2 separate regions of the Homo sapiens genome follow, and region 2 is linked to region 1. The links come from fine-mapping of genetic effects on gene expression. Tissue or cell type: monocytes after LPS. Region 1 holds a variant in brackets; the other region holds the start of a gene. All regions are shown on one strand. Distances are from middle to middle.

Region 1 (5,204 bases):
TCAGTCAAGCCACTTGGGTGCCCAGCACTCTTGTACACCCTTTCTAAGTTTGGGGAATTTCTCATTTACTGAGTCTGTGCCTCAAGTAGAAAGCCAGAAATGGGCTTTCCAAGCTTCCCTTGTATAGAATGCAAGCCTAAGTTCCTGACCAGAGGCACCTGTGTCTGGCTTCAGTTAGGAAGCCAGTGATGCTAGGAAGCAGGTGTCCAGAGGAATTTATTCTGGTGAGAGAAGGGACATAGATATTTAGCATCTAGATGCAGCAATCACAGAGTTGATTGTGGAAACACACAGTGCTCAGTGCTGTGGGTGGGACCTGTGGTTTCTGTGTCAGTGGGGATGCTGATGGGGACCCCATGAAAAAAATCTGGAGGATACTGTGATTGATCCACTGTTCCTGGCTGTAGGGCTTCCCGGAGACACTCCAGAGAACTAGCAACACTTTTTAATAATTTCATTTTCTTCTTAAATCAGCTAGGGAGTGTTCTTTTGTCCACACCTAAGAACCTTGACTGGTACAACAGGTAACTGAGGGCGCTTATAGAGTCTCTGGAGACTTTTAGAAGTAGGAAAAACACTTGGCTGTCAGTTCAGTATGATCAGAGTATGTATCAGTCAGGGTTCTTGGTTGCAAACAACAGAAACCAACTCTTTGTATTTTAAGCAGAAAAGAAATCTATTGAGGTTTCAGTGATTCAATGAGATGCTGAAGAATCAGTACGAAATATGGACAAAAATTGAGAGCTTGAGTTAAGAACCCTCTTAGGACAACTGGGCCAGGAAGCATCCTTTGCTTCTCTAGGGTAGCGCTTGACCTGTCATTAGACACCAGGAATTAGATACCATTATGGCTGCCAGGAATAAACCTGACTATCCCAGAGTCTTCATACCACTCACTCTAGCTTCTGGATAAGGGGTCTATCTGTCTGAATTTCCAGGGAATACATACAGGCAGAACCCCCAACCTTTGGACTTCTGAGGTAAGAGGCTGGGTACTGAACCCTACCAGCATTACACACAGGGCAACATTGACTCAAAGAGAAGGAGGAGTTAGATACAGCAATAATAGATGTCCATATCGGGGCTGGAAAAGGCAGTCACATGCAGCCTCATTGATCCTTGCATGGTTGCATATGAGTGTGTCGTCAGACCTGGAACATTTTCTTATATAGCGATAAAAAGCCGTCACAGCCTATGCTAGACTGATTGCCCTGTTTAGGAGTATCTTTCCCTGTTCTGGATTTGATATTAACTTTTTTGTTTTGCTTAAGTATATGCATCATGTGGCACCACACCTGGCAATCCCACTGCTATATCTGTTCACAACACAGTCCTTTGCCTTTAATACAAGAGGAGTGCATGCAGACAATCTCCCTGCATCAGCTCCAGGGCTGGCTTACTGGCCATGGGAGACCAATGGTCACTATTGAAGCTGACCTTGCTCTGTCTTTTCTCTAAGATGCTGTTCCAACCAGTGCCTCTGGGAGTTGTGTCTTTCTTGGTAATCTTGACATCTACAAACCATGCAGTGTGTTGACATTTTGATACTGCCGCTCCTGGTGATATGCAACAGGTCTCACTTGCTTGACAAGGGCACGTGTCTTTAGCTTAATGCTATAAGATGTTGAGCTGTAAGAGATAAATGCAGGACAAACTCCTAACAGATAAAGAGGCCTGTATTAGTCAGGGTTCTCTAGAGGGACAGAACTGGTGGAATAGTCATATATATAAAGAGGAGTTTATTAAGTACTAACTCATATGATCACAATATCCCACAATAGTCCGTCTGCAGGCTGAGGAGCAAGGAGAGCCAGTCAAAGCTCCAAAACTGAAGAACTTGGAGTCTGATGTTCGAGGACAGGAAGCATCCGGCACGGGAGAAAGGTGCAGGCTGGGAGGCTAGGCCAGTCTCTCTTTTCACATTTTTCTGCCTGCTTATATTGTAGCCACTCTGGCAGCTGATTAGATTGTGCCCACCCAGATTAAGGGTGGGTCTGCCTTTCCCACCCACTGATTCGAATGTTAATCTCCTTTGGCAACACCCTCACAGACACACCTAGGATCACTACTTTGTATCCTTCAATCCAATCAAGTTGACACTCAGTGTTAACCAGCAAAAGTCCTCTATGCTGCAAAAATCAATGATGGGACAAAAAAATCACTGTCTCATCCTGGTTTTTATTGTTTATTTATATACTCTATCCCCTTTTTATGTTACATTTCCCCCCATATTTAAAGCAACTGCTGGAACAATGGTATCACATGCTCCATGATTCATCCATCCATCCATCCATCCA[ATCCAT/T]CCATCCATCCATCCATCCATCCATCCATCCATCTATCCACCTGTCTATCTATCTATTCACCCAGTAAGCATTTACTATGAACCTCCTCTGGGCGTGCCCCAGAAAGTTGCTGGTGATGCAAGAATTAATGAAGCGGTCTCTATTTATTTATTTATTTATTTTTATTTTGAGACTGAGTTTCCCTCTTGTCACCCAGGCTGGAGTGCAATGGCGTGATCTTGGCTCACTGCAACCTCCGCCTCGTGGTTCAAGTGGATTCTCCTGCCTCAGCCTCCCAAGTAGCTGGATTACAGGTGTGTGCAACCATGCCCGGCTAATTTTTATATTATTAGTAGAGACAGGGTTTCACCACGTTGGCCAGGCTGGTCTCGAACTCCTGACCTCAGGTGATCGGCCCACCTTGGCCTCCCAAAGTGCTGGGATTACAGGTGTGAGCCACCATGCCCAGCCAGCAGTATCTTTAAGTAGCTCAGTCAGTGAGGGAGTTGCTATGCAAATAGAGAATTACAATATAAGGTGTATTAGTTTTCCGTTGCTGTGCAAAAAGTCACCACAAATTTAGTGGCTTAAAACAATACTGATTTATTAGCTCACATTTCTGTAGGTCAGAAACCCATTATGGTATATCAAGTTCAGGGCATCAGAAGGCTGAAATGGAGGTATTGGCTGGACTGACTTCTTGTTTGGAGGCTGTGGAATAATCTACTTCCAAGCTCATCCTTGTTGGCAGAATCCAGTTCCTCAAGGTCATAGGACTAAAGTCCCCATTTCCTTGTTAGCTGTCAGCCAGAGACAGTTCTCAGCCCCTTGAGGCTGCTCTTAGATCTTTGCCCAAGGGTCCCTCCATCTCAGCAGCTGAGAATCTTCCTCATGTTGAATCTCTCTGACTTTTATTTTTGCAACCAGCTGGAGAAAGTACTGTTTTGAAAGCACTGTTTTTAAAGCACTCTTGTGATTAGGTCAAGACCACCTGATTAATCTTCCTATTTTAAGGTCAACCAAATAGCATATACTATATAACATAATGTAATTACAGGACTATAATCCATTATAATTGATGAAGGATTTTTCTTGACCCCTTTGTCAGACTTGCAACGGGGGTGCCCTGTTTACTTGGCTTACTGGGCTCAACTTCTTGCAGGAGGGAGCATGTGAGTGAGTGAATGCGGGATCTGATTGGGTGCTTTAAGGCGCCAGCAGGAGCAGGTTCTATGTGGGCCTCAAGGGATGTCGGTGCCCCGCTGGGGGAGCCTGCAACCCCCGAAGCCCCAGGGGATGTGTTACAATGCTCTCTTAGCTCTGCTGTCTGTGGACAGTGGTGTGTTATCAGCTCAGTGGGCCCCTTGCCTTGTTGCATGGAGTGGCTGCCCTCCATTAGTGAGGGCAGAGGGCCAGTGTGACAGCCTTTTTTGGGTACCCACACTTGGTAGGTCCTGATTGTCTGGCATCCAAGAAGAATGAGGTCACCCAGACACTTGAAGGATGGTGAAGGTGGATAATTTTATTAAGCAATGGGAAATGGCTCTCAGCAGAGAGGGGAGCTGGAGAGGGCACAAGACGGGCAGATAATCTTCCCCTAAAGTCCAGCTGTCTCTAGTCAGCTCTTCCCTGTAGTTAAGCAATCTCTCTGAAGTTAAGCTGTCTCTCCTCTGAAGTCCAGTTGTCCCTCTGAAGTCAAGTCACCTCTCTCCAGTCAAGCTGCTTCTCTCTCCTTTACTGACTGATTCTGGGGTCTTTATAGGCACAGCATGTGGGGCGAGGTGGGCCATAGGTAGTTTTGGAAAAGGGAACATTTGACTGGTAAAAAGACATTATTCAGAAAGAACCAACTGGGAGAGAGCCGGCAAACAGGGATAGAAGTTCTCACTTTGGGCCGTGGGTTTCAGGCTTTTCGGCTCAAAGGTGGGGTTTCACTGGAGACCTGTCCCCAGTCTGCCTAGAATTTCTCTGCCTCCTGCCTCTATCATTATCATTGGCCCAGAAATTATGCAGCGCATAATTATGAAATTATGTACACTGGGAGGGGGTGTATGGAAAATCTTTGGGACATCACAGAATCCTGCCTACTATGCAAAGTGGCATGTGCTATTTTGGAGGCATACACAAGGAATCATAGGAGTACATAGTTTTAGAGGTGGGAGAAGCCAGGGAAGTCTTTTTGGAGGGCTATTATCTGTAGGGGTGCCTTTGGAAGGATGTCAAAAGTTATTCAGTTGACAGGGTTGAGAAGCACTTAGCCCTACAAAGTGAAGATTGGTCATAGGACTGTTCCAGCTAGAAGGAATGACTTATGTGGGGCCAGAGGTATGACACAGCATGGTGTATTTGGAAATAACAAGTTTGGGGTTACTGGAGAGTAAATATTTTCCAAGGAAGGGAGTGGTGAGATGGGGACCTGGAGAGGCCCGGAGGAGTCCAGACTAAGGATCTGGGAGAATCAGATCTTTGGGCCCTCTCACAAAATGTTTGATTTGGGGTGGGGCCCAATAATTTGCGTTTCTAACAAGCTCCCAGGTGATACGGATGCTGCTGGCCTGGGGCCACACTTTCAGAACTGCTGCTCTGCAGAATGAATGGGAAGAGAGCAATTCTGTGGGTCCAGTAGGAGGTCATGGTACTAGTCTAGCAGGAGATAATGAAGCTCTGACCGGGTTCAGAGCCAGGGCATTGAGGGTGGGTATAGTGTGGAGTAAATGGGATTTAAAAAAAGATTTAGGAGGGAGGCAGTACTGGGGTATGGGTGTAAGAGACAAGGCAGTTAGGGCTGACCCCTGCTCTGGAGAGACCTGGAAGGAATCTTAGCCATGACCCAATCCAGCCCTCTAATTCCTCTGATGGGCAATGTGAGGCCCAGAGAGAGGAAGTCACACCTTCAATATCACACAATTGTTGGTATTGGCA
Region 2 (5,125 bases), 220 kb before region 1:
TCTGTTAAATAAATAACTGTTCCCGCCCTCAAGCTTAGTATAGTAAACACCTAAGCAAATGAGGACAATGCTGCGTCACTAGTGTTAAGGCAGCAGTCTGCTCACAACAGTGGTTCTTAACTAAGGGTGATTTTGGTCCTCCTGGGGGACATTTGCGATGTCTGTAAGCATTTTTGATGTTCACAACTGTGTGTGTGGAGTGCTACTGGTATCTATTCCTCAGTAAAGGTTAGAAATGCTGCTAAACATCCTACGCTGCACATGATAGCCCTCCACAACTAGAAATTACCTGGCCTAAAATGTCAACAGAACTACAAATGAGAAACTCTGACTCAGAGGACGATAACACTCAAAAGAGCTGTCAATTGCACTTCTGAGGGTGGTGATTTTTAAATATCTGTTTTCTTTTTGGGGGATGGGGGGTGTCAAGCAAAGCTTCAGGGCAGAGGTGAAGCTTCAGCTGTGTGTTTGAAAGGTAACAGGGGCCAGATCAGTGGGGACTATGTTTGTCAGGAGCAAGGAGGAGTCTCTGAAGAGTTTAAAAGCAAAGTTATGATTTGAACAGGTGCCCCCAAGTACCCTATACTCCAAAATTATTCATTTCCTTTTTTCCTTTCTCGCTGAAACAAAACTTCCATTCTCTCAGAGTAGCTGGTTTCAGCTGAACATTAAGGCCAAATTAATTCAGCCCAAGATAAAGTCAGATAGGCCCTTCACTCTCCAGAATGTTAAGCTACATTTTAAAATATGCAAATACTTATGAGTACAAATAAATCTTTAACTGCTCAATGTTCAGGTTGTCAGTGCATAAAGCTATTTTTGAACTCAACAGCCAGATTGGCCCCAGTAACACTTTCCCAAAGCTTTGTTTTTTAAAAACCTTTTTGATCTGTTTCCCCGTTCTCCTAGAAATCTCCTAGATTTCTGAGCTCCTAGATTGTATAAAAGATCTAAGTTTTTTTCCACAAGTATCTCATGCCATTAAGTTCTTCTGCCAGAGGTGATAAAAGGGCCATTTGGATGCAATAAATGTAAATAAATTGTGTGTGTAAATTAGCAGTGGCTTAGAAAATTTTTAAAAGGCTTTCATGGACTACTGAAAGAAACTGAGATAATTTTTAACATACCACCAAGAAAAAAAAACAACAGTTTTACTACAACACAAGCCGGCTGCCTACTGAACTGGACGCCCATGCTCTGACCTAGTATGGCAATTCTTAGGGTCTAGGCGCTGGGTTCTGTTTACAAGAAACTAAGGCCTGAGACTAAGGAAGAACAAAGAAAAATGCCTGGCACCAAAGGTGTGGGGGATGTTTTGTACATAAATGAAGATTTGAGGAGGAATACTTCCTCAGATGTTGGAAGGAATTACTCTTTTTTTGCTTACGTGTTAAGAATTTAATGTTTTCAGGCCATTTCCTAATTAGAAAATACCTTATAATTTACAAACAATAATTTGTCTTCCCCTACATTTGCTGACCACCAAGACTGGATAAAATTTCCTTAAGCTTTACCAGAGTGGGAGGACTGGGAATAACGGGAGCACAACAGAGTTCGGATGCAACATCAACTCCAAGCCCGGCCAGCTGGTTTCCATCGAGAGGTCCCCCAGGAGAACGCCCCTCCGCGGCGGCGGCGGCCAGGTCGGCGCGGGAGAGACCCACCGAGGCGCTCCAGCGCGGCCGCGGTGCAGGACCAGGGGCCGCCCGGCCTCCGTTTACCTTTGTTTCAGGTACCCCGGCTCCTGGCGGGCCGGGAATCCCGTCCGCGGCCCGGAGCTGGTGACACATCCTTCTTTGGCCAAGTCGGGCCGAGGTTGGGCAGGGGGCGGGGAAGGAAAAGAAAGCCTCAGCGCCTAACGACGTGACTCTCAGTTCTTCCAAAACGCTGGCATTTGTTTCTCTGCCAGGCTTTCCTGTTAACAAGTTCCCGAGGGCTGTGCGGGCGAACTGGCCCAGGAGCCCTGAAAAGTGGGAGGGCCCAGGCCGCCCCCGCCTACCCTCCTCCGCGGGCGCCCCTGGGGCAGGCAATTTCCACACCTCCCTGGTGCCGTGTCCCGGGACCGGCCGGCCGCGCCGAGGCAACGCACCGCACCGCACCGCACCGACTGGAATTCCGACTTCCACAGCCCAATCAGCTCCGTGTGGCCCCTCTGGCCAGGCCGGTCCCCGCCCCCAGGTCCCGGCCCCGCCCGCCCCGGCCTCCGCGCGCCGCCCCGAGCCTCGCCACCCCCTCGGGCCGGGACGAGGGAGCTGAAGGCTCCAGGCCGTGCGGCCAGTGTTCCTTTGCCTACCTCGTTGCCCGCGGCTCCTCCTCCGGCGGCTCAGCTCGCGGGCAGCGCTTGCCTCCAAGCCTCCCCGCGGCGCGGACTCTCGGGCTACGAATGCGGCGCGTGAAGAGCGGAGGCCCGAGCGCGCCCCGCCCAGCCACCCGCAGGCCCCTACCTCCTTCTCCTCCTCCTCCTCCTCCTCCTCGGCCCCACCCTCGGCGGCCGGCCCGCCCGGAGCCCCGCCCACGCGCCAGGCCCCGCCCACTCTCCGGCCCCGCCCCCAGCCTACGCCCCGCCCCTCTGGCCAAGGCAGGAAGGGGGCCTCCAGGGGCGCCGCGAGAGCCGCTGTGGCCTCGGCGAGGGCAGTCTCCTGTATGGCGGCGCCGCGGGGATGCGATTCGTGGTGGTCGCTGCTGTTTGACAGATTCGAGTCTCTTGCTCGGATTTATTACTGTTATTGTCATCGTCAATATTGTCATCGTTGTTATTGTTATCGTCATTAGTTGTGTTGCCCTCTTCAAGGGGCCTTCAAGGAGGCCCCTTGAGGGCAGCGCGCTGCTGGCCAGACATTCCCTGGCGCTCCTGTCTTCCCACAGTCCTGCACCTGCGCCACATTTCACTCAGCCCAAGAAGTTGTGTGAATTTTAAAAGAAGTGATACTTATTTTTAACTGTTATTGTTAACTGTTACTGTTAAATAAAACACAAATATAGACAGCCATATAAAACCAATGTACAGCTTAATGGATTATTCCGATACACACACCCTTATAACCACTCGCCAGATTTATTAATAACACCGTGTAATATGGTCTGCTCTGAAACAGAACCTCATTAATAGCTGGAAGGACATAGCCTGGAAGGGCCTCCCAAAATTGCCCTCCTTCTAACTGCCACAGTACTCAAATGTGACAGGTCCATAATCATGCCCTCTCCAAGAATATATTTGTAAAATGGAAATTTCTCCAGAATTAGGAACCTCCAATTGAGTATCTTCGTAAAAATCTTGATAAAATGATAAATCTATAAATATATAAGCATATAAATAACAATAAATAAGTCAATCAGTTGGGTTGAATACCATGAGTAAGGAGCATGGGGGTGGGGGATGGGAGGTATGTAAAGACTTAAAAGGATTAGGTGGGCTGTGAGGACAGGTCCTGGGCACCTGGGTTGTTCTCACTGTCTCCCCAGCACCTAGCATAGCACCAAGCATATACTAGGTGCCATATGTGTGTGTGTATATATGTGCATTGTACATATATGCACATATATGTGTGTGTGTGTGTATAGCACAAGGAAAGAAAAAATTATGTAAGATAACCCCAAACAAGCTTTACATACTGAAATTTCACCCAAGGTCAATCCTCCCAGTAGCTAAAGTGTGCTCTGTGAGATGCCTTGATGCCCTAGAGAGAAAGAGACCATTTTACTTTCAACTTTCTACTGCTTTTCCATTTCAAAAGCCCTTTCACATGCATATGGTATCTTATTTGAGACTGAGAGCAACTCTGTGAAAAATGCAGGGCAGGATAGGACTCTGCAAAGGTCACAGTGCAATGCATATCAGTAAGAAGGAAAAGTACACAATGTACCATAAAACAATGTTAAAACTGCTGACCCTGGCAACCTGGATTCTTGGTTTGTCTCAACAGTTTTATTGCCAATGTTTTTACATTAGGGCTCCTTTGGCCCTTTTGCCATGCATTTATACACATTATAACTTGAATGTATAAAGGACACAATACGTGACTGGAAATTTGATTCAATACAATAGAGTTAGTCTCTCTGTCATGAGGACCATGGTGAATTGGGGCTAGAGAGTTGCCAATTCACCACAATGTATTGAGTACTCAGACTGTACTAGGTGGTAGGAATACAAATGATATAAAATAAAGAAGATACAGGGGCTGGGCGTGGTGGCTCACGCTTGAAATCCCAGCACTTTGGGAGGCCAAGGAGGGTGGATCACCTGAGGCCAGGAGTTTGAGACCAGCCTGGTAAACATGGTGAAAACCCATCTCTACTAAAAATACAAAAATTAGCCAGGCGTGGTGGCACGCGTCTGTAATCCCAGCTACTCAGAAGGCTGAGGCGGGAGAATCACTTGAACCCGGGAGGTGGAGGTTGCAGTGAGCCGAGATCTCTCCATTGCACTCCAGCCTGGGTGATCAGAGTGAAACTCTGTCAATCTTTGTTCTCAAGGAGCTTATGGCCAAGTAAGGGAGAAAGATTTGAAAATAAATGTTTAAATTACATGACGGTAGGGGAGCAGTCATGAGCACAATTAATTCTATGAGGTATAGGAAGAGAGTAGGGCAAGTCTTATTAGACAAGAAAACATCTGAAATTTTTTTTAGTATAAAAATATCAAATATTGAAAACAGAGACAGAATAATATAATTAACTACTATGCACCCATTACTTGGCTTCAACAATTATCCCATGACCAATTTGTTCCATCTGTACCCTCACCTTTTCTTTCCCTCCTTGGATTATTTTAAGGCAAATCACATGGAGCATTATTATTTCATCCATAAATATTTCACTATGCATCTCTAAATGATAAGGTCTATTTTTAAAAACAACCACAAAATCATTAAATTGTCTTTTAAAGTAATAATTTATTAACATCTAGACAGTGTTCAAAATTTCCCAATTTTCTCATAAATGTTTCATGTAGTTTACTTCTTCCAGTCATGATCCAAACAAGTTCCTCACAATGCATTTGGTTAAAATGTCTTACACCTTTTTCTTTCCTTGTACTTTTATATTGAAGAAATAGATTGTTATAAGGAGTTTCCCACATTCTGCATTTTGCTGATTGCTGTGATGTTCTTTAACATGTGCCTCTAAC

Which allele goes with the higher level. Positions count from the first base shown, and alleles are read on the strand shown. Sizes are in standard deviations (SD) of each study's normalised expression.
With allele ATCCAT in place of T in region 1, the expression in monocytes after LPS of the gene that starts at base 2,415 in region 2 is higher (large effect, 0.83 SD a copy in Fairfax 2014).

What was found. PIP is the estimated chance that this variant, and not a neighbour inherited with it, causes the effect.
Region 2: PPP2R3A starts here. The variant in region 1 is fine-mapped to the expression of PPP2R3A in monocytes after LPS (Fairfax 2014, PIP 0.95).

The regions. Positions count from the first base shown.
Region 1 is chr3:135,741,017-135,746,220 of GRCh38, reverse strand. No RefSeq gene overlaps it. Among named protein-coding and RNA genes, the nearest start is that of PPP2R3A, 220 kb to the left of the region's middle. The variant ATCCAT/T (reference allele first, on the strand shown) is at 2,298.
Region 2 is chr3:135,963,018-135,968,142 of GRCh38, reverse strand. It overlaps PPP2R3A (protein phosphatase 2 regulatory subunit B''alpha), which reads right to left and starts at 2,415. Exons shown (of 14, transcript NM_002718.5): 1 at 2,294-2,415. RefSeq lists silencers at 1,939-2,218, 2,349-2,578 and an enhancer at 2,023-2,841.